2 linked regions of the Homo sapiens genome follow. The protein of the gene in region 2 purifies or fractionates together with the protein of the main gene of each other region. This does not show direct contact. Each region holds a gene or a part of one and is shown on either strand. Other genes may lie near its edges.

Region 1 (11,573 bases), about 39 Mb from region 2:
CAGAAGGACTTTGCAGCCAACCCTGGGGCAGCCCAACAACCCATGAGCACCCTGGTCACACACCACACACCCGAGCGTCCCAACAGCTGGGACAAAACCCCGGCACCAAGAACATCCAACCACAGGGAAATGCCTACGATGGGGCCTGAGGTCAAACGCGTCTCACGGTGTCCACTGGGTGCCGCCCGGGGTCTAGGTAAGCATGTGCAAGCGCGTGTGCACACTAAGGAGACAGGCCAGGCTGACCAGGAAGCCCTCTCTGGGGAGGCTCGCGGGAGATTTTACTTGTGAGCTTAAGCTGCCCTGCGCTTCCTGCTGTCCGATGTGAGCATCTATCACTTTCCTCAGAACAGAAAAAGTGACGTGGCAGCCACTGGTGGGGGAGAGAGGATGGGAGCTGTGAGCTCCAGGCTGTGCCCGTATCAGAGCATGCCCCGCACGAGCCCAGCGCCCACCTGCCCCCGTCCACCCCGTGGTGCCAGGATCAGGGTGACGTCGTGCCCAGCCGTGACCACTCACCTCTTGTTGACCTCGTCCAACTCTGCCCTCAGCTTCCCAATCTCTATCTGCAGCCGGGCACGCTCTCGAGCCGTCTCATCCAGGACTCTCCGGGCATCGGCCAGCTCCGACTCGTACAGCGCCTTGATGCCACTCACCTGGGGAGACCCAGGACAGGGTGAAGCGAGAGGGACCCTTCCCCTTGGACTACAGCAGTCAGGGGGCCCGGCCACTGGCCCTGCTCAGATTCCCAGGGACTGGCACGCAGAGAGAGAGGATGGCAGCCTGGGGACACTGGGACACCCTGTGTTGCCCATCTCACAGACACAGCAAAGGGAGCCCCCTGTCGGGGAGGGTCCGGTAACCAGGAGGAAGCCAGGCGACCCTGGGTCCCAGCCATCCCAGGAGCCTCCTCCTCTGCTGCGGCCCCCTCTGGAATGATCGTCTCTCCACGAGCTCCAGCTCCCAGAACAGCGGCGCCCAGTGCTGGAGACCAAAGGCCCTGGGCCTGGACCAGCACAGCAGCTGGATGGAGCCTGTCCCCTTCCCCGGAGGACCAGCCACACCTGGACATGCAGCCCCTTGGCCGCTGTCATAGCGACACGATGCCTGGCCATTAGATGCATTTTTCACACTCTCGGTTTCAGAACCAGAAAACTGGTGGGATGTTTAATCAAGGATCTCTCCCGCTGGGCACCATGGACACTGGGCTGATCACTCTCGGACAACTGGTGATGACAGCAACCCGGGGCCCTCCCAGACCCCACTGGGCCTGAGAGCCCCCTGCCCCCACCAGCCTTTGCAACCTGGAGTCCCCTCCCAGACCCCTCTGGGCCCCTGAGACTCCCCCCAGGCCTCTGCAACCTGGAGCCCCCGCTCCCCCAGACCCCGCTGAGCCCAAGATCCCCCACTTCTGCCAACCGGGGGCCAGCCCGTGCCCCTCTGTGCCCCTACCTCACACGCAGGCACATGGCCCAGGCTCAGGCTGGGCTGTTCCCTGGGATGGAGGGAGGAGCATCTGGCCTTCCCATGCTGTGTCCCCCCGACAGGCCAGCTGCCAATGTGGTGGCTCGGAGGCTCCAGGACAGAAGCTCCCACCCCTCAATCACAGAGATCTGCAGTCAGAGTCCCCAGCTCCCCACCCCACCAGCGGCCCCCACCTTTCACCCCTCGATCACAGGGATCTGTAGTCAGAGTCCCCAACTCCCCACCCCACCAGCGGCCCCCACCTTTCACCCCTCGATCACAGGGATCTGCAGTCAGAGTCCCCAGCTCCCTACCCCACCAGCGGCCCCCACCTTTCACCCCTCGATCACAGGGATCTGCAGTCAGAGTCCCCAGCTCCCCACCCCACCAGCGGCCCCCACGTTTCACCCCTCGATCACAGGGATCTGCAGTCAGAGTCCCCAGCTCCCCACCCCACCAGCGGCCCCCACCTTTCACCCCTCGATCACAGCGATCTGTAGTCAGAGTCCCCAACTCCCCACCCCACCAGCCGCCCCCACCTTTCACCCCTCGATCACAGGGATCTGTAGTCAGTCCCCAGCTGCCCCCCCCAACCAGCCGCCCCCACCTTTCACCCGTCGATCACAGGGATCTGTAGTCAGAGTCCCCAACTCCCCACCCCACCAGCTGCCCCCACCTTTCACCCCTCAATCACAGGGATCTGTAGTCAGAGTCCCCAACTCCCCACCCCACCAGCCGCCCCCACCTTTCACCCCTCGATCACAGGGATCTGTAGTCAGTCCCCAGCTGCCCCCCCCACCAGTCACCCCCACCTTTCACCCCTCGATCACAGGGATCTGTAGTCAGAGTCTCCAGCTCCCCACCCCACCAGCGGCCCCCACCTTTCCCGACGGAGACCCAGCCCAGCCAGCAAGGACATGGGGAGGGGCTGGAGAGCCAGGGGTCACCAGGGCAGGCAGAAGCGACTGGAACACCCTCTGGGCCGCCCAGCTAAAGAAAGCCCCTCCCTAAGCCCCGCGCAAAGCCCCCAAACCCGCCCCTCTCGAGGGCCTCCAGGTGAACTCGAGGCACATGCGGTGCCAGGGAAGGCGACCTCTTCACTTCCTACTAATCCTGCTGCAACCACAGCCGCCACCTGCCCGGCCTCTGCACGCGCCAGCTGGGGGCACAGCTCAGGCTTCTAGTGGCCTTCCTGCCTCCCCTCCTCCCACAGGGCCATGCACTCAGTGAGTTTAAAAATATGTGGAAGCAAACCGCAGTGAGATGCCACTTCGCACCAGCCAGGGCGTCCGTCAAGAAGACAGACAGTCGCAGGTGCGGGCGAGTACGCAGAGAAATCGGAACCTCACAGGCAGCGGCAGGAACCTGAGCTGAGACAGCTCTACAGAAAACAGTCCAGGGGCTCCCCCAAGAGTCACAGAGCCACCCTGTGACCCGGTAACTCCACTCCTGGGTGTGGACCCAGAAGACATGAAATTCACATCCATGCATGTTTGAAAACTACACATGGTGCCGGGCGCAGTGGCTCACACCTGTAATCCCAGCACTTTGGGAAGCCGAGGCGGGCGGATCACAAGGTCAGGAGATCGAGACCATCCTGGCTAACACAGTGAAACCCCGTCTCTACTAAAAAAACATACAAAAAATTAGCCAGGCGTGGTGGTGGGCGCCTGTGGTCCCAGCTACTTGGGAGGCTGAGGCAGGAGAATGGCATGAACCCGGGAGGTGGAACTTGCAGTGAGCCGAGATCGCACCACTGCCCTCCAGCCTGGGAGACAGAGCGAGACTCAGTTTCAAAATAAATAAATAAATAAATAAAATGAAAAATAAAAATAAATAAAAAAATAAAAGCAATGCGGTCCCTCCACCATCCACACACAGGAACATGACCCAGCTGTGTAACGGAGCAAGGTTCTGACACCACAGTGTGGATGCCCCTTGAGGATGTCACACTCATGAGACGCCAGACACAAAACGCCACACAGTGTGTAATCCCATTTCCATGAAATGTCCAGGTCAGGCCAGTGCACAGACACAGGCAGCGGGTGTGTGGGCAGCGGGGCTGGAGAAGGGGACGGGGAGTGACCGCTGAGGGGGACAGGCTTCTTTTAGTGGGGATGAACGTTCTAAAATTGGACACATTGGTGGTGGCACAGCTGTGGAGATATGAAAACGCGAAACCTACGGGTGAGCTGGGTGAACCTTATGAGGCGGGAATTAACTGCTCCGGCTCTGGCGCTGAGGAAAAGGAGGACCGGAGGATGGTAGGCGGAACCAGGCCCAGCACCACCCGCTAGAACGCCGTGATGTTCCCACAGCCCTACAGGGCCAAGGGTGTCTATGCAAGGTGGGTACAGGGTCGGCCTGCATCTGGAGGGCCACACCCCCATGTTACAGGCGAGGCTCCTGTGCAGAGGGCTGGGGGCCTGCCAGGACGCACCCCTTGGCAGTGACCGGGCCTCTTCTGAGGTGGGACCCTCAGCCTCAAACCAACGCATGCTGGGCCATCTGGACAAGTCAGAGTCTCAGGCTGCCCCAGCACCGCAGCTCCAAGTCCCGTCAGCCTACAGTGGGGCGGGATAAGGGTTCCCAACCTGATTTTATGTATGGGAAAACTGAGGCACGGGTCAGTAAAAAGCCGCCTCCTGACCACCGCTGGGTCCTAGACATATCAGGTCTGCGGGGACCAATTGTAGGACGGGGACCCACAGAGGCAGCAGTGCAAAGCGAGCTCCTCCCGCGGCACCCCGGCCACCCCCAAGCCCTCCCTCCCATGCAGGCGATCATCTGGGCCGTGCCCTCCACATCTGTGTCCTGGGAACAGACTTCTAGAAAAACCCAAATCAGGAAAAAGCGGCCAGCTCCACGCTGCAAACAGCTGGGCACCAGGTGCAGGCATGGTGGTGTCTGCCTCTCCCTCAAAGCTCCCAAATACCCCTAACCTCAAGGGAGGGGCTGACGGGACACCCTCAGGATGGGGGTCACACACGAGCTCTCCTGTCCCCACAGAGAGAGAGCTGACTGCGGCTCACGAGGCAGAGGGGCCAGGATGAACAAAACAGCAGAGTTTCCAACAAAGACAAGATCAGCGCCGGGACACACAGGAGCCCGTTCAAGGTGAGAAAAAACAGCAACTCTGCAATGGCAGCCACACGCACAGAGGCATGCTGAGCACCCCCAGACCATGTGCACGGCGGTCCTGTAAGACTCTAATGCAAACCTGGCATGGGGGCTCACCCCTGTCATCCCAGCACTTTGGGAGGCTGAGGTGGGCGGATTACGAGGTTAGGAGATCAAGACCATCCTTGTTAACACGGTGAAACCCTGTCTCTACTAAAAATACAAAAAAATTAGCCGGGCATGGTGGCGTGCACCTGTAATACCAGCTACTCAGGAGGCTGAGGCAGGAAAATTGCTTGAACCCAGGAGGCAGGGGTTGCTGTGAGCCAAGATTGGGCCATTGCACTCCAGCCTGGCGACAGCCAGACTCCACTTCAAAAAATAAAAAGAAAAAGAATCTAATACCATATTCTTACTGCACCTTTCTTGTGTTTATTTACTTATTTTGAGACAGAGCCACACCCAGCCTGGAGAGCAATGCCGCAATCACAGCTCACTGCAGCCTCAAACTCTGGGCTCAAGCAATCCTCCTGTCTCAGCTGCCCCAATAGCTGGGACTATAGGCACACATACTACTATGCCTGCCTAATTAGTTTCTAACTTTTTTTTTAAGAGATGGGGTCTTGCTATGTTGCCCAGGCTGGTCTCAAACTCCTGGACTCAAGCAATCTGCCTGCCCCAGCCTCCCAAAGTACTGGGATTATAGGCGGGAGCCACCGCACCCAGCCCTTTCTCGTGTTTAAATGCTCACATACTTACCATTGTGTAACCGGTGCCCACAGCATTCCACAGAGGAGCGGGCGGTGTGGGTCTGTGGCCTAGGAGGCCACGCCCAAGCCTGGGTGTGTGGTGGCTTCCACCATCCGGGAGTGTGGGAGTGCACTCTACCATGCCCACACAAGGGGCACGTCTCCTAACGACACGCTTTCCACAAGGTATCCCTGTCACTAAACGACACCTGACTTGAATTAATAGTTTGTTCATTGTAGATTTTTTGAATTAATTGATTTTTAAAAGATAATCCATTAGGGCCCGGTGCGCTGGTGCATGCCTGAAATCCCAGCACTTTGGGAGGCTGAGGCGGGCGAATTACTTGAGGTCAGCAGTTCGAGACCAGCCTGGCCAACATGGTGAAACCCTGTCTCTATTAAAACACAAATTAGCTGGGTGTGGTGGTAGGCGCCTGTAATCCCAGCTACTCGGGAGGCTGAGACAGGAGAATCACTTGAACCCGGGAGGCAGAGGTTGCAGTGAGCTGAGATCACGCCACTACGCTGCAGCCTGGGTGGTACAGAGAGACCCTGTCTCAAAAAAAATATACATATGTCTGGGCGCCGTGGCTCACGCCTGTCATCCCAGCACTTCGGGAGGCCAAGGCAGTTGGATCACCTGAGGTCAGGAGTTCGAGACCAGCCTGACCAACATGGAGAAACCCTGTCTCTACTAAAAATACAGAATTAGCCGGGCATGGTGGTGTATGCCTGTAATCCCAGCTACCCAGGAGGCTGAGGCAGGAGAATCGCTTGAACCAGGGAGGCGGAGGTTGTGGTGAGCCAAGATCACGCCACTGCACTCCAGCCTGGGCAACAGAGTGAAACTCCGTCTCAAAAAAAAGAAAATAAAATACATATACATATACATATATATATACACATATATATATATATTCCATTAAAACATTACTCATCCCATCGCCCCAGCGTGACGATGAGCAAAACAACACACAAACCCCCATTGAGGAACATCCTACTGCACACCTGCCCAGCCCGCTCAGGACCAACCAGAACCTCTAACCAGGAACGTGGGGGAAACTATCAGCCTGGAGGAGCCTGGGAGACAGTGACGTAGTCACTAAATGTCACGTGAGATAGTGGATGGGGTCTTGGGGCAGGAAAGGACATCGGGGAAACTGAGGAAGTCTGAATACATGATGGATGTTGCTGGGAGCAGTGGCTCACAGCTGCAGTCCTACAACTTTGGGAGGCTGAGGCAGGAGGATCAGCCTGCCTCAGCCTTCCAAAGTGCTGGGATTACAGGCATGAGCCACCGCACCTGGCATAAGATGATGGGAGGCTGAGGCGGGCAGATCACCTGAGGTCAGGAATTTAAGACCAGTCTGGTCAACATGGTGAAACCCCATCTCTACTAAAAACACAAAAATTGCACCATTGCATTCCAGCCTGGGCGAGCACAGGGCAAGACTCTGTTGCCCAGGCTGGAGTGCAGTGGCATGATCTGAGCTCACAGCAACCTCTGCTTCCCGGGTTCAAGCGATTCTCCTGCCTCCCAAGTAACTGGGACTATAGCCGTGCACCACCACGCCCAGCTAATTTTTGTATTTTTAGTAGAGACGGGGCTTCACCATGTTGGCCAGGCTGGTTTCAATCTCCTGACCTCGTGATCCGCCCACCTCGGCCTCCCAAAGTGCTGGGATTATAGGTGTGAGCCACTGCGCCCAGACGGTTTTTACATTTTTAAATGGCTAGGGGTAGCCAGGAGAGGTGGCTCATGCCTATAATCCCAGCACTTTGGGAGGCAGAGGCTGGCAGATCCCCTGAGGTCAGGAGTTCGAGACCAGCCTGACCAGCATGGTGAAACCCCATCTCTGCTAAAAATACAAAAATTAGCTGGGCGTGGCAGTGCAAACCTGTGATCCCAGCTACTGGGGAGGCTGAGGCACAAGAATCGCTTCATCGCCTGAATCCGGGAGGCAGAGGTTGAAGTGAGCGGAGATTGTGCCACTGCATTCCAGCCTGGAAAACGAGACTGTCTCAAAAACAAAAACGATAAAGGCCAGGGGGGAAGATGAAGAGACTTTGTGACACAGGCAGATTCTATGCACTTCACAGTTCCATGTGTATAAATAAAGTTTTATTGACACATAGCAGCACCCACTTATTCACCTATGGGCTAAGGCAGCTTTCATCCTATGGCAGAGCTGAGTGGTTCAGATGCAGACAGTCTGGCCTTTTTTAGAAAAAGTCTGCTGACCATGCCTGGTCTGCCGTGCTGTGATGATGAGGAAAGTTCTAGAGGCTGGGGCACCTCACAAAGACCCTTTGAGCCTGCGGAACGGGTGTGCCGGGGCAGGACGGCCTCCTTGTGCTTGTGAGGCGCTGCAAAGGGCTGGGGACAGGCTGGGCCTTTTCTTTCATCTTTCACGGCATCTAGCAAGTGCTAGGCTTGAGGGAAGTCAACAAGTGTGTCCACACATGTGGGCCTGGCAGGGCTCAGATAGCCTGAGATGGCCTTTGCCTGGGACCCCTCGGACACACAGAGCAGCATAACTCGGCTGGAGGAGGCCACGGTGGGACAAAATGGCCCGGCTAAGAACTACAGCCCTGTGCAGAAAATGCAAACACCGGCTTGGGGTCACTTCCAAAGTGGACTCCATCCTCCACGCTCGCCTGGGCCGCCTCCGAGACCCCCTCCAGCAGCCCTGAGCAGCCAGGGGACACCGGGGCAGGGGAAGACAGAAGATGCCGAAGCCAGGTCTCCTCCCTCGGGAACGTAAGGCCTGGCAGGGAAGTACCTGGAGTACCTGCCTCTCCCGCGCCTGGACACGGGCCACAGCGCGGCCTCCCTGCACCTGCCCCCGCCCCCAGCACTCAGTGATCCTCCTTCAACAAATACCCATCTGGCCAGCCCCCACCCCACCCTTTCCCAAGCCCTCCAACGATGCTTGTATATGGCGATTCATCCACACCGCCAAAAGACACCCCCTAGTGTCACATGGGAATGTGGAACCCATGCTTGGCCTGGTTTTGTACGAGTGTGCAAGGGTGAACTCCTGCGGGCAGGAAAGAAGTGAGCAAGTTAGCCGGGCATGGTGGTGGGCGCCTGTAATCCCAGCTACTCAGAAGGCTGAGGCACGAGAAGCCCTTGAACCCAGGAGGTAGAGGTTGCAGTGAGCCAAGATCACGCCACTGCACACCAGCCTGGGCGACAGAGAGAGACTCTGTCTAGAAAAAAAAAAAGGCCAGGCATACTGGCTCACACCTGCAATCCCAGCATTTTGGAAAGCTGAGGCGGGCAGATCACAAGGTCAAGAGATAGAGACCATCCTGGCCAACATGGTGAAATCCCATCTCTACTAAAAATACAAAAATTAGCCGGGTGTGGTGGTACACGCCTGTAATCCCAGCTACTTAGGAGGGTGAGGCAGGAGAATTGCTTGAACCTGGGAGGCAGAGGTTGCAGTCAGCCGAGATCACACCACTGCACTCCAGCCTGGGCGACAGAGTGAGACTCTATCTCAAAAAAGAAGTGAGAAAGGCGTGTGTGAGGACCTCGGGGGCCGCCACACACCAGGATGCTGTGAGTCGTGTTATGAGCCTGAAAAAATCTGAACTGAGTCCCTCACGCCTCCCAGCAGGCTCCTCGGCCTGGCCATTCTCATGGGGGCCGTGTTACCCTCATGGAGGCTGCGTCATCCTCGTGGGGGATGGGTCATCCTCATGGGGGCTGCGTCATCCTCATGGGGGCTGGGTCATCCTAATGGGGGATGGGTCATCCTAATGGGGGCTGGGTCATCCTAATGGGGGCTGGGTCATCCTCGTGGGGGCTGGGTCATCCTCGTGGGGGCTGGGTCATCCTCATGGGGCTGGGTCATCCTCGTGAGGGCTGCGTCATCCTCGTGGGGGCCAGGTGATTCTCTTCTCGGGGCGCTGAGCAGTACCCAGCCTCCACCCACGCTGTGCCGATGCCGTCTCCCTCCCAATGTGACAACCAAGGGCATGCCCAGCCTTGGCCAAGAGTCCCCTGGGGGCAGAAGCTGGCCAGGTGAGAGAGGCCCTGCTGTCCAGGTGACCTGCATGCTCTTAGGCCTGACACCCCAGGTCCCTCCTCGTTCAGAGCTCCCTCCCCTGCCCCCATCCTGCCAGCCTGAGCCTGAGGCTGCTCTCTGAACCCCACGTGGCCCACCTGTGTCTAGAAGGCCCCCAGCTATTCCAGGTCACTCCCTCCATGTGGGCCCACATGACGTCCCCCCACCAGCGGCCCCCACCCCAGCAGGCTTCCAACTCTGCTCCCCACTAGCCGGGTTCCTGGCCCACTAGTCGCAGGCGGAACTCCCAGCTGTCCCCTGCCACATGCCCTGCAGACACGGCTGGGTGACAGGGCTCACGGAGGGGCCAGTGTGTCACCTGCTAAATGGCTGCCTTCACTGGAGTCAGACCCGCATTTCACCCAGCCTGAGTGAACTGAGTTGTAAAGGATGCTGCTGCGGCCCCGAGAGGTGGCTGGGCCAGGCTCCCTCTAGGGCACAGGGCCGGTCCAATGGGGCGTCCAGTGGGGCTGGGGCTGGTACCTCCCCAGCACTCACCAGGCCCTGCACCCTCAAAGCTCCCTGCAGCTGTTCGTCCCATTGGCAGGTGGGATAACAGAGGCCCAAAGACAAGAAACCAGCTCTAACCCTGCACGCCACGGGTCCAGCAGGCGGCCTCTAAGTTGGGACAACTCCGCACTGGACAGATGGCAAGATGGAGGCTCCAAGAGACACAGGGGCCTGCCCAAAGCCACACTAATTGAAAAGCAGGGGACTGGCCAGGCACGGCGGCTCACACCTGTAATCCCAGTACTTTGGGAGGCCGAGGCAGGCAGATCACCTGAGGCCAGGAGTTTGAGACCAGCCTGACCAACAAGGCCAAACTCTGTCTCTACTAAAAATACAAAAATGAGCCGGGCATGGTGGTGAACACCTGTAATCCCAGCTACTCGGGAGACGGGGGCAGGAGAATCACTTGAACCCGGGAGGCAGAGGGTGCGGGGAGCTAAGATCGCGCCACTGCACTCCAGCCTGGACGACGGAGCGAGACTCTATCTCAAAAAAAAAAAAAAAAAAAAAGAAAGAAAAGCAGGGGATCCCACCAAGCACTGATCTTCCTTCTACCTCCCTGAAGGCACCAGCTACATTCTTTCAGGTTCCCTGTCCCCAGGGCACTGTGAAAACAACCCACAGGGAGCTACTGAACAAAAGTTAACCTGCTGTGGCCCCACACACAAGTAAGAGGTGGGTATTATAATTACACCCATTCCAAAGGCGAGGGCACTGAGACCCAGAGAGGGTAAGCGACTAGCCCAAGGTCACACAGAGGGTAAGTGGCTCCCAGAAATGACCCGACCCCCTCAACAAGCAGCTCTTCTCCCAGAAGCCCACCACGTCCTCTGATCTCCAGATGGGCGAGTGGGGACTGGGCGCTGCAAATCCCGACTTCGGCACCCAGCTCTCCCAACAGGACACTGGGGCCTAGGGACCCCAGGACCCCAACCCATGGCAGGAATCAAGTGGGTGCTCCTGCCTGCCCCCCGTTCTGGAGTCCTGTCCTTGGATTGGGCATGGCCAGTGGGAGGGACAAAGAGCCTCCCCAGGGTTAGGTTGGGGGGCAGGACAGATTGCACCCAGACCCCAAGACACCCCGACCTCATGTCCCCTTGGTGGGCAGACTTTCCCGCCTCTTCTCCTTCAGTCTGCACTGAAGCCTCGGGGCCCATTCAGAACCTCAACACTTTCCACCGGACCCAAGATCCCAACTCTCACCCTTCCTTCATATTCTCTTGGGGGCAGAACCTGCCAGACCACCGCTGACACCAGGGCACAAATAAGGGACTCCCAAATTTCCCGTGGGACCCCAAGGTATCAGAACCTCTCCCTCGGCCCCCTACCCACCCTGGGCCTGGTGAGAGATGAGGGGCCTAATTCCCACCCCAGTCACCAATCTCTTCTGGATTCATCAGGGAACTCGCTAAAGCTCCAGGGAGAACTGAGACCACGTGACTCACCCCAGAGACTCCAGGGAGACCCCCCACACACCCCATCTTGGGCCTCCTCAGAGGGCCTGGGCCCCCCAGTCTCCTTGGAGCCCAGAGACCACCCCCATTCCACCCCAGATACCCCAATACCCAGCTTCATCCCCAGAGACTCCCACTCACACCCCCTCAGTTGGGGGGGGTCCGCCAAGTCTCCTTGGAATCCTCTGAGGGACGAGGCA
Region 2 (11,573 bases):
AAGCGGAGGTGCCGGGCGGGCGCGGGGCGCGGGCAGGAAGCGGGGAGGGGCGGCGGGGCGGGGGCCTCCGGAAAAACGCCCCGACTTCCTGCCCCGCCAGAGCCAGGAAGCGGGAGCCGGGACCCAGGGCCCGGGATCGCCGAGCCCGACCTCGGGCGCCCCGCCGGTCACCTCCGCGCGGACACCAGGTACTCGGTCCCCGGCCCCGCCCGGCCTCCTCCCCTCGGCTGTTGGGGGAAGTGGGGAGGAGGAGGGAGGGGCTGGGGCGCTGCCGGCAGCGGAGGGGCCCCCTTCGGACCCCACGGAACCAGCGGCCGCCCCTCCTTGGGCCTCAGTTTTCCCATCTGTCAAAGGGAGCAAAGAGGGGAGAACTCACACTTGACGAGTGCCCCATAGGTGGGGACGAACGGTGCGAGGCCGGGGCCAAGGCCTCCCACCTGCTCAGTGGAGAACGGACGATCACTACCATTGTACGGGTGGGGAAACCGAGGCCCGGGGAGCCAAACCGACTCGTCCCAGGGAACGCACATCGTGAGAAAGTGTGGAGTTGGGATTTGAACTCGCACGTGCTTTCCGCAAAGCGCCATCCTCCAACCCCCGCATGCTTTAGGGCCACCTAAAAATGAAAAACAACAATAACAACAACGACGAGGGTCGCTGTGAAGCTGAAAGTTGCAGAGTGCATTTGAAAGAGTTTTCGGAAAGCTCTTTTCTAGGTCATTAATTATACCGTGAGAGACAGGTGTAGGGAGAGAGCTGGAGGCCTTCTCCCATTGTACGGATGGGAAGACTGAGGTCTACAGAGAAGTCATTACTTTTTGCAGATTACACTGCATGTCAGAGGGAAAGTTGTGCTGGAACTCAAGACTATTGCTTTTCCGGTTCCAAAGGAAGGGGCTGGGGGTGGGAGACGGAGGGGATTGATGTACGAGGATTGGAAATTCAGCGGGTCCCCTAAGTGGGGAGACTAATAGGACGGGGAGCCCCAGTCCGCCGTCCGAGTGCTCAGCGCTGGGGTGACTAGGAGATCTCCGATCGAACTCGGGAGGAGTTGGACCCATCTGCACCTCCGGGCGCGGGGCGGGGCCCGGGGAGTGACGGGGGCAGTCGAGATACGGAAACGCTGGCCCTCCAAGACAGGCCAGAGCGGCCCTATCTGGCCTGCGTGGCGCAGTACAGCGCTAGAGCGGCCGGCGGGAGGAGTAGAGTCGTCGGGGCCGGAGCCCGGCAGGAGCCGGGCTAGAGCGGCTGGCAGGAGGAGTGGAGCTGGGCGCAAAGGTGGACTCAGGGCGGCTAGAGCGACGCGGCGGCAGGGGTGGGGAGAGTGCGGAGCCCGAGCGCGGAGGCTTCGGTTCCGGTGGCGGCGATGGCTTCTCTTTCCACCTGGAGCAGGTGAGGGACGCGGTCCCCAGCGGGTGTCAGACCCTGACTCTGCACGTCCTCCCCGGCATCCCTGGCCGTGCACACTGCCACGTCCCCCGTAGGATTTAGGGCCCGCGTAAGACCCGCCACGTCCATGTAAGATTTGGGTCTCGTGTAGACCCGCCTCATTCCGTATAAAGTCTTACAGACCCTCCAGGTTCCTGCCAGCCCCCCATGGAGAACTGGCTTCTTATAGACGTGGGGTCCTCATAGACCAGTGGCATCCCCTAGAATCCGGGGCTCTATAGACCATGGGTCTCGGGACCCACCACGCACCCCTATGGAATTCTGAGTCCCTTTTAAGTCTCCAGAGGTTCCACAGACTGGCAGCTGTCCCTATAGAATCATGATCCTGTATGATCCCTGGATCCTTTAGACCCACTGTGTGTCAAATAGAATCTGGGGAGTTACACATTCCAACGACTCTTTTAGGTTCTTTAAGGCTCCAGAAGTTCTTGGAGACCCTGAGTCACCTGCTCAACACATTATAGACCCTGAGACCTCCATAGAACTCAACACCCATGTGGCCCCCCAACCCATGGACCTTCTAAACCAGCCCTAACCCCCCAGCGCCCCATGCACGCAGTGTTCCCTCTGCTGGACCCCCCAGGCCTTGTCAGTTGCCTATAGATCCATCTATTCTCTGACAGCTTCACCTATAATTCTCCAGCCTTTGTGGGACTCCCCCAAACCCCTCCTCCTAAACAGGCGACACTCCTCGCCTCCATCATCTCCAACCCCCAAGCCTCTGTGGAGCAGCCGTATCCAACTTGCACTCCTGCCTAGGCCATAGTGACCACATACCCGTGACTTTTCCAGGCATCCATAAGAAGACATGATGTGTCTCAGAGCTTTGGTTCAGATTTTAGTTTCTGAAGGGTAGGGTGGGGGCTCCCCATGCTCTGAAGCAATGCTCTCTGTTTTATTTTGTTTTATTTATTTATTTATTTATTTTTGAGACGAAGTCTCACTTCTGTTACCAGGCTGGAGTGCAGTGGCGCGATCTCAGCTCACTGCAACCTCCGCCTCCCGGATTCAAGCGATTCTCCTGCCTCAGCCTCCCGAGTAGCTGGGACTACAGGCTCGTGCCACCACGCCCAGCTAATTTTGGTATTTTTAGTAGAGACAGGGTTTCACTATGTTGGCCAGGATGGTGTCGATCTCTTGACTTCGTGATCCGCCCGCCTTGGTCTCCCAAAGTGCTGGGATTACAGGCGAGAGCCACCGTGCCTAGCCTATTTTATTTTAAGACAAGGTCTCACTCTGTCGCCCAGGCTGGAGGGCAGTGGCACAATTTTGGCTCACTGCAACCTCTGCCTCCTGGGCTCAGGCGATCCTCTCATCTTAGCCTCCCAAGTAGCTATGACTACAGGCATGAACCACCACACCTGGCTATCTTTTGTAGAGATGGGGGTTTCACCATGTTAGCCAGGCTGGTCTCGAACTCCTGAGCTCAAGTGATCCACCTGCCTTGGTCTCCCAAAGTGCTGGGATTACAGGTGTGAGCCACTGTGTCCACCAAATGCAGTTTATTTTAAATGCGTAAACTCTGTAGCCCAACTGCCCAGGTCTGAGTCCTGGTTCTGCCTCTTATGAGCTGTGCCTCAGTTTCCTTCTTTGTTAAATGGAGGTGAGAATAATAATGATCTCTTGGAGTCACCGAGAGGATTAAATGAGTTATTACCTGTCAACCAGCGATGCCATGCCTGGCACATACTAAGTGTCTCTTTTGTGTCAGCTGTCATTTCATTATTATTGTGATAAGGAATAAGGAGATAAGAACTTGGCAAGTGCACAGTTCCAGACCTGGCACCAAGCACTTGCAAAGATAATGAGTATCCCCTCCTTTGCCTTTTTAAAATTTCCCTGCCTCAGTTGAGCGTTTCTACCTCTGAGTGGGATGAGCATGCACCCTCCACGTCCGTGGTCATGTTTCATAGTGAGACAGGGTCTCACTGTGTTCCCCAGGCTGGTCTCAAACTCCTGAGCTCAAGCGATCTTCCCACCTTGGCCTCCCAAAGTGCTGGGGTTACAGGCATGAACCACCTCACCTGGCCAGTTTGCAAATTTATTAAAGTGAATGTTTAACAGTACTTGAATCTTGAATTGCCCAAGCTTAGATATTGGACAATACACTTTGTGGGAAATAATAAAAATGATGCCTTCCCCAGGTGGACCCACAGGGTGGCATTTGGACACTCCAGAAAGCATCATTGTTTAATCATCAAAATCCTGGTTACCATTTACTGGGGAGCTAGGGAGGAGGCCCATAAAGCAGGAGAAGGGCGGGTCTCTGCTGGCTTGGGTTATAAATAGCTTTGGGCTGTGGGGAGCCCCGCCGCTGGTCCACCCCACCCCTCTTTCCACAGCTCCTTCCCACCTGACACGGGCTCCGTGGCATTAGTCAGACTAATTAAGGACACAGAAGATGTCGGTGGAAAGACTCAGAGAGAAGTGGAGACTCAAGGAGAGACAAAGATGGGAGAGACAGCAAGAGATGGGGGAGAAAAAGGGATGGAGAGATGAGAGACAGCACATGAGACTGTGACTCAGAGAGGTGTGAGGATGGTGGCTGCAGAAACCAGATGTGGGAGGACAGAGGCACAGAGACAGGGACAGGACAGACGGAGCTACAGAAGCAGGAAGGGGGTGTCACCGCTGAGAGGGAGAGATGGAGGGAGGAGAGGCAGGGATGGTGGGGAAAATGAGACAGTTCTGGAGGAAGGGAAAGAGAAAAATCAGGAAACAGGGTGAAAAGAGACCAAGACATGAGACAGATTCAAGGGACAGACAGCCAAGGAGAGCTGGCTGCGGACAGACCAAGGCGCACGTAGGGTGGAGGGGACAGACGCACCTTGGAGATGGGCTGTCTGAGGCCCCATCACTTGGTTTCTGGGACTGGAAGCCTGGGAAGAGATGAGGTCCCTGGGGGAAAGAAGAACTTCTGGGTTTGGGGACTCCCAGTCCCTGAGGGAGGAGGGTTCTGAGTTTTGTTTTCTTATGTGGAGAGTTGGGGGTTGGGGGTTTGCCATTGTGACTTCCTGTCACAGGAAGTGGGGCTGGTGGGTTCCAAGGCAACATCCTGTCCCAGGCCTGTCACAGACCAGAGGAGACCCCTGCACCCCACTTCTCTCCCGCCTCTCCTCTAACCCTCCCATCCCCTCTTGCCTCTGGGCTGTGCCCTCAGGAATTAGCCCCCAGGCCCCTGGTCCCTCCAACCTGGGAGTCCAGGCCCCCAGCCCCCTCTTCCATTAGGGCATTAGGGACCCCAGATTGCAGGCTGTCAGACTCAGCCTTCCCATGGACCCAGGCTCCTGAGCCTCCAACGCCTGCCCCCGCAAGGCTCCCGTCCCTGGGCTCCCGCCCCCTGGCGGGTCTCTGAAGGGCTCTTTGTGGCCACACAGAGGCCCCATTGAGCTGCGGAGGCTGGGATGGGGGAGGCTGTTTACTCACCTTCACACCTGGGCCAGGAATCTGTGAGTAACCACCCTGGGCCGCCTCCTCCCACCCTCCTAACCACAGCCCCTCCTCTTCCTCCAGCCCTGCAGAGCCCAGGGAGATGGAAGACTTCGCCCGAGGGGCGGTGAGTGGACAGAGCAAGGGGTGAGGCGACTCTGGGGCTGTGGGTGGAGAGTCCTGTGGACTGAAGCTGCCCTCCCTTTCCACAGGCCTCCCCAGGCCCCTCCCGGCCTGGCCTGGTTCCCGTCAGCATCATCGGGGCTGAGGATGAGGATTTTGAGAACGAGCTGGAGACAGTGAGTGGGAGATAGGGTGGAAAAGCTCTGTCCCAGGCTCAGTGTCCCGCCCCAGGTCCCCTCCCACCTGCAGATGCTGTCTTCTTGGCCTTTTCCCACGGTCTGTCTCATCCTCTCATCTCCCTGGTACCTCCTTCCTCACCTCGCCGACCCCACACAGCAGCATAGACGCCCACCCTTCTTACTCTTAACCCCATTTCTTATCGTTGCTCTCTCCTCCCCCAGCATGGACCCCAATTTCTTCTCTCCTAATTTCTGTCCTCATCATCCACCATTATAATATTAAGTCTCATCCATTCTCCCTGAACACCTGCCCTTGCTGTCACCATCATTTTTTGGACACTGTCACCACTCCCCACTTCCCAGGAGCTAACCCTGGCTTGGATCCCTTGTGAAGTGCCAGGAATGGGTAGGGTCAACCCTAAGGCCCCTCCTCTTCTCCCCATTGTACTCACCCCTTCCTGCACCCCCAGAACTCAGAAGAGCAAAACAGCCAGTTCCAGAGCCTGGAGCAGGTGAAGCGGCGCCCAGCCCACCTCATGGCCCTCCTGCAGCACGTGGCCCTGCAGTTTGAGCCAGGACCCCTGGTGAGGGCAGGGCTGGGTGGGCACAGGGAGGGGTGGGGCTGGGACAGGCACAGCTTTTAGCGAATTAAACCAGCGAGCTAGTGCCTGGAGGGTCTGGAAAAGCAGATCTAGAACACAGAGAGCCAGATCTAGAAAGAGAGAATGCTTTAGACAAGAGCCAGAAAGCATGCCACGTGACCTCAACAGGCTTACAAGTGCCCAGGGTAGATCTCAGTGCGCAGCGGGCAGGGTACACACGTCAGGACCCCGCGGAGCCACAGAGAGTCCAGCAGCCTGGCAGAAACCACATCCCATCCCACTCTGTGCCTGTGGCAGCGCCCCCATCAGCCTGTGGCAGCACCTTTCCGTGAACTCTAGGGGACCAAATTCTTCTCTCCAAAGCCTTTTTGGCAGATGCCAGCACGCAGTCATTCACGGTTGATGGTTGGGAAAAAGAAGCTGTTAGCCATCCCAGGTCTAGGGAGCACAGCAGGCCCTGATCTGGAAACAAGAAAACCACCACACACAGCTCACAAGGCAGACCACACAATTGTGGATCCAGAAGCCTCCGGATGAGGCAGAAGATACCTGGGAGATGTGGATGGACAACCGTGCCATCCAGAAACACCCGCAGAGTCTAGAAAACCCAGCAGGTGATTTAGAAAGGGAGAGGCCACAGTGCTGGCTGGCAGGGGATCTGTAGACAAGGGTCTCATCCCAAGAAGACCCCGTCCAGCCCAGCACAGGATAGGAGGACAGCCTGGGGACAGCCAGGGCACTGCACCATGTGGACATGCATAGTGGACCCCTCCAGAAAACAAGGAAACCGATAGAGTGGGGAGAAGTGCCCGAGGCATGCAGAAAGAAGAACATGTCAGCTGCAAGACCAGAGGCTGGTCATCCGGACGCCAAACCATCAGATATGCAGAAAATTAGGAAATTGCAGTCTTTCCCCTGTCTACATTCTCTTTCCAGAAGAGTGGTTCCCCCGACAACCACATGCACGGAGACTCTGGCCCTCTGAGCAAGGGAGTCCCCTATTCAAGCCTTGGGGTTTCTAGAACACCAGATTGTGGACATCAGCCCAGGGATCGTGCTGACTACCATGTTCTTTTACAGATGTGGAAACCGAGGCCTAGAGAGGGTCAGGGACTTGCCTGAGGTGACCCCGGCGGCCTCTGGGCATTTTGAGGTTTATTCTCGCATAGCTCCCTCACCTCATCAGCTTGTGGGGAGCCGATCAGAGATAGCTGTGGTCCCCTGGGCAGCTTCCTGTTGGCCTGTCTTAGAATTTTGCTATATTTGGGGGGTGTGAAGAGTGGATATAGATGTGTTAAAACTGTTTAAAGTGGAGAAGGAGGACCGGGCCTGGTGGTTCATGACTGTAGTCCCAACGCTTTGGGAGGCTGAGGCAGGAGGATAGCTTGAGCCTGGGAGGTTGAGGCTGCAGTGATTGCACCACTGCACTCCAGCCTGGGCGACAAGAGTGAAACCCTGTCTTGAAAAAAAAAAAAAAGTGGGGCCGGGCATGGTGGCTCACACCTATAATCCCAGAACTTTGGAGGCTGAGGTGGGTAGATCACTTGAGATCAAGAGTTCGAGACCAGCGTGGCCAACATGGTAAAACCCCGTCTCTACTAAAAATATGAAAATTGGCCAGGCGCAGTGACTCACGCATATAATCCCAGCACTTTGGGAGGCTGAGGCAGGTGGATCACCCGACGTCAGGAGTTCAAGACCAGCCTGGCCAACATGGTGAAATCCCATCTCTACTAAAATAGAAAAATTAGCCAGGCACAGTGGTACACACCTGTAATTCCAGCTACTCGGGAGGCTGAGGCAGGAGACTCACTTGAACCTGGGAGGTGGTGGTTGCAATGAGCCGAGATTGCACCATTGCACTCCAGCCTAGGCGGAAAAAAAAAAAAAAAATTAGCCAGGCCTGGTGGTAGGCACCTGTAATCCAAGCTACTCCAGAGGCTGAGGCAGGAGAATCGCTTGAACCCAGGAGGAGGTTGCAGTGAGCCGAGATCACGCCACTGCACTCCAGCCTGGGTGACAGAGCGAGACTCCATCTCAAAAAAGAAAAAGGAGAAAAAGTCCCACTCCCATTGGAGTGAGTTCATTTCCCAGATGAGAGCCCCCAGGAGCCAGGACAGGTTGGAGTCCCCACTGTCACCCAGAACAGGGGCGGGCACTCAGGAAATGCTTGACGAATGACAGAGTGAGCCCCACTTGTCCACCTGTTCTTTCCAAGCCCTCAGTATGCACAAGGCACCACCATCTGGGACACAGATGGATCAACCTACAACACCCCTCAACACACACAAACCCTTAAGCTGCTCACAGTCTTTCCAGGCAGTGGAGTGTAGTAGAGACAGGCTGCCTGGATTCGAATCCTAACTTTGCCACTTAGTAGCTATGTGATTTTGGGTTTTATTTATTTATTTATTTATGAAACAGTCTCGCTCTGTGTCACCCAGGCTGGAGTGCAGTGGCACAATCTCCACTCACTGCAACCTCCATCTCCTGGGTTCAAGCAGTTCTCCCTGCCTCAGCCTCCCGAGTAGCTGGGATCACAGGTGCCCACCACCACACCCGACTAATTTTTTTATTTTTAGTAGAGACAGGGTTTCGCCATGTTGGCCTGGCCGGTCACAAATTCCTGACCTCATGTGATCCACCTGCCTTGGCCTCCCAAAGTGCTGGGATTACAGGTGTGAGCCACTGTGCCTAGCCTAGTTGTGCGACTAAGCTTGACTAAACTTCTTGAGCTCCGTTTTCTCATCTGTAAAATGGGGATAATGACGGTCCCTATGATTGAACACGTTAATGCATGTAGAGGGTGTAGAGCCGTGTCTGGTATACACTAAGCCGTCAGTATAGACAGTAGTAGTAGTTGTTGTCATTATTGCCGGGAGGAGACCATGATGAAGAACCACAAAGGACCATAGCACAGGATGGAAAATTAGAAAATGCTCATGGCAGCCCCAGGGAGCCTGCAGGGGAACCCAGGGCCTGGCTTTAGGGGTGGAGGTCAGGGAGTGCTTCCCAGAGGAAGTGGCAGTTGAGTCCCACAGCCATAGGATGGCCAGGAGGTGAGGAAGGCCCTTTTCAAAGGGAGAGTGTGGTTTGAGGCAGGGTGAGGGAGCGGAGAGTCATGCTGTGTGTCTCCCCCAGCTTTGCTGTCTGCATGCCGACATGCTGGGCTCACTGGGCCCCAAGGAGGCCAAGAAGGCCTTCCTGGACTTCTACCACAGCTTCCTGGAGAAGACAGCGGTGAGAGACCTTCAAGCTGCCCCAACCCTGCAATCCCTGTTTGGGCCTGCAGAGTCACCATGCGGTCCCCAGCCTCTGCCCTGAGGGCAGCTGCTGACCCAGGCCTTCCCCAGCACCCTCGCTTAGACCAGGGTTCCTGGCAGTCCTCCCGGCCTGCATCTCAGCACACCAAGTCCTCCTCTTCACCCCATTCTCTCTCTTGAGCAGGTTCTCCGGGTGCCGGTCCCTCCCAACGTCGCCTTTGAACTTGGTAAGGAGAAGGATGGGATGAGGGAGAGGTGTCTAGCGGGGACCACACCTCCCAGGAGGCCAAGGGGAGGGAGGCCGCACTCCCATGCTCTGCTCGGACAGCCGAGATTCATTCATTCCTTCTTGGCAGCGGCCTCAGGACGTGTGGCTGTTGGAGTCCAAGGGTGGGTGGGGACCGTGGTCCAAGCCACCAGGGAGCTGGACCCTAGCCCCCATGTGTGTCCCTGCAGACCGCACTAGGGCTGACCTCATCTCCGAGGATGTCCAGCGGCGGTTCGTGCAGGAGGTGGTGCAAAGCCAGCAGGTAGCCGTGGGCCGGCAGCTGGAGGACTTCCGTTCCAAGCGGCTCATGGGCATGACGCCCTGGGAGCAGGAGCTGGCCCAGCTGGAGGCTTGGGTTGGGCGGGACCGAGCCAGCTACGAGGCCCGGGAGCGGCACGTGGCGGAGCGGCTGCTCATGCACCTGGAGGAGATGCAGTGAGTAGGCCAGCCCTGGTGGGAGCGTCGCCCCTCCCCAGCACAAGGGCACCCGTGCTACCTCTGGCATGTTCCATCCCGTTTGCAGGTTCCCTCTTCAGGGTCAGAGTTCATTTCTTGGCACTGGGGGTCTTCCTCTACCCTGGTGTTTTAACTCACCTTGAATCCGAGTCTTCCCTTTCCAGCTTTGGGGTTCCCTTGTCATTTCTGGGTCTTGTCCATGATCTGGCACTTGGATCCCATCCTCCTGGATGAGAGACCTCCCTCCCTCTTATGACAGTCCTTCCCAATCCCTTCCACAGTGTCCCCTCTCTGTCTCTCTTCCCCCTGCCTATCCCAGGACAGCAACCCTGAGATGTATCCTGGGTGGATGGGGACCCCAGGCCTAGCAAATATGTCACAAACATCTCTCTTCCTCCTACAGACATACCATCTCTACCGACGAAGAAAAGAGGTGAGGGGGGCAGGGGAGGCGTGCGGCCTCCTGGGTTTGAGGGAGGAGGGGGCTGAGGGCCTGGACTCCTGGGTCTGAGGGAGGAGGAGGCTGGGGGGCCTGGACGCCTGGGTCTGAGGGAGGAGGGGGCTGGGGGGCCTAGACGCCTGGGTCTGAGGGAGGAGGGGGCTGGGGGGCCTGGACGCCTGGGTCTGAGGGAGGAGGGGGCTGGGGGGCCTGGACGCCTGGGTCTGAGGGAGGAGGGGGCTGGGGTCCTGGACGCCTGGGTCTGAGGGAGGAGGGGGCTGGGGGCCTGGACGCCTGGGTCTGAGGGAGGAGGGGGCTGGGGGCCTGGACTCCTGGGTCTGAGGGAGGAGGAGGCTGGGGGCCTGGACTCCTGGGTCTGAGGGAGGAAGGGGCTGGGGGGCCTGGACGTCTGGGTCTGAGGGAGGAGGGGGCTGGGGGGCCTGGACGCCTGGGTCTGAGGGAGGAGGGGGCTGGGGGGTCTGGACTCCTGGGTCTGAGGGAGGAGGGGGCTGGGGGCCTGGACTCCTGGGTCTGAGGGAGGAAGGGGCTGGGGGCCTGGACTCCTGGGTCTGAGGGAGGAGGGGGCTGGGGGCCTGGACTCCTGGGTCTGAGGGAGGAGGGGGCTGGGGGCCTGGACTCCTGGGTCTGAGGGAGGAGGAGCCTGGGGCCTGGACACTTGGGTCCTGGGCATTGGGTAACAGCCCTTGCCCCTGTCCTTTTGAACCCTCTCATCTCTCCTCAGAGTCTCACAGGAAGTAGTTGTGGGGTCAGGATGGGAAGGCCGGGCCTCTGCCTCTAGGGGGAGAGAGAGAGAGTGTGTGTGTGAGTGTGTGTGTGTGTGTGTGTGTGTGTGTGTGTCTTTGTGTGTGTTGAGCCCTCACTGTCCCTTCCCTACAGTGCTGCCGTGGTCAACGCCATTGGCCTGTACATGCGCCACCTTGGGGTGCGGACCAAGAGTGGAGACAAGAAGTCGGGGAGGAACTTCTTCCGGAAAAAGGTGCTTCCCTCAGTGCCCCGTCCTGACCCTTTCCTCTCCAGAGACGCCCTGGGAGCCTCATGACTCTGGATACCTAGCGTCAAATTCTGCTTTGTTGTTGTCTCAGAGATGCTTAGCCTGGTCTTCCTCCCCGCCCTCTCACAGGTGATGGGGAACCGGCGGTCGGACGAGCCTGCCAAGACCAAGAAGGGGCTGAGCAGCATCCTGGATGCCGCCCGCTGGAACCGGGGAGAGCCCCAGGGTAAGGCGGCTCTGGCCTCTGCCCTCCCCTGTCTTCCCCAGCTGCTCCCACTCACTGTCTCATTCTCTCTCGTTTCAGTTCCAGATTTTCGACACCTCAAAGCAGAGGTTGATGGTAATGTACCTGT

What was found.
Region 1: the proteins of ARHGEF1 (region 2) and LMNB2 purify together in Homo sapiens (affinity purification with mass spectrometry; 2 studies listed by BioGRID, with this or other methods). This does not show direct contact.

What each region holds. Positions count from the first base shown.
Region 1 is NC_000019.10:2,443,885-2,455,457, forward strand, and holds part of LMNB2 (lamin-B2), read right to left. Parts: intron 657-11,573; coding exon 520-656; intron 1-519. UniProt on the Homo sapiens protein: Lamins are intermediate filament proteins that assemble into a filamentous meshwork, and which constitute the major components of the nuclear lamina, a fibrous layer on the nucleoplasmic side of the inner nuclear membrane.
Region 2 is NC_000019.10:41,883,102-41,894,674, forward strand, and holds the start of ARHGEF1 (rho guanine nucleotide exchange factor 1), read left to right. Parts: upstream 1-82; 5' UTR 83-188; exon of another isoform or gene 189-1,366; coding exon of another isoform or gene 1,367-1,392; intron 1,393-4,962; coding exon of another isoform or gene 4,963-4,981; coding exon 4,982-5,005; intron 5,006-5,090; coding exon 5,091-5,177; intron 5,178-5,650; coding exon 5,651-5,764; intron 5,765-8,923; coding exon 8,924-9,022; intron 9,023-9,229; coding exon 9,230-9,272; intron 9,273-9,501; coding exon 9,502-9,748; intron 9,749-10,172; coding exon 10,173-10,202; intron 10,203-11,105; coding exon 11,106-11,205; intron 11,206-11,349; coding exon 11,350-11,446; intron 11,447-11,524; coding exon 11,525-11,560; intron 11,561-11,573. UniProt on the Homo sapiens protein: Seems to play a role in the regulation of RhoA GTPase by guanine nucleotide-binding alpha-12 (GNA12) and alpha-13 (GNA13) subunits. Acts as a GTPase-activating protein (GAP) for GNA12 and GNA13, and as guanine nucleotide exchange factor (GEF) for RhoA GTPase.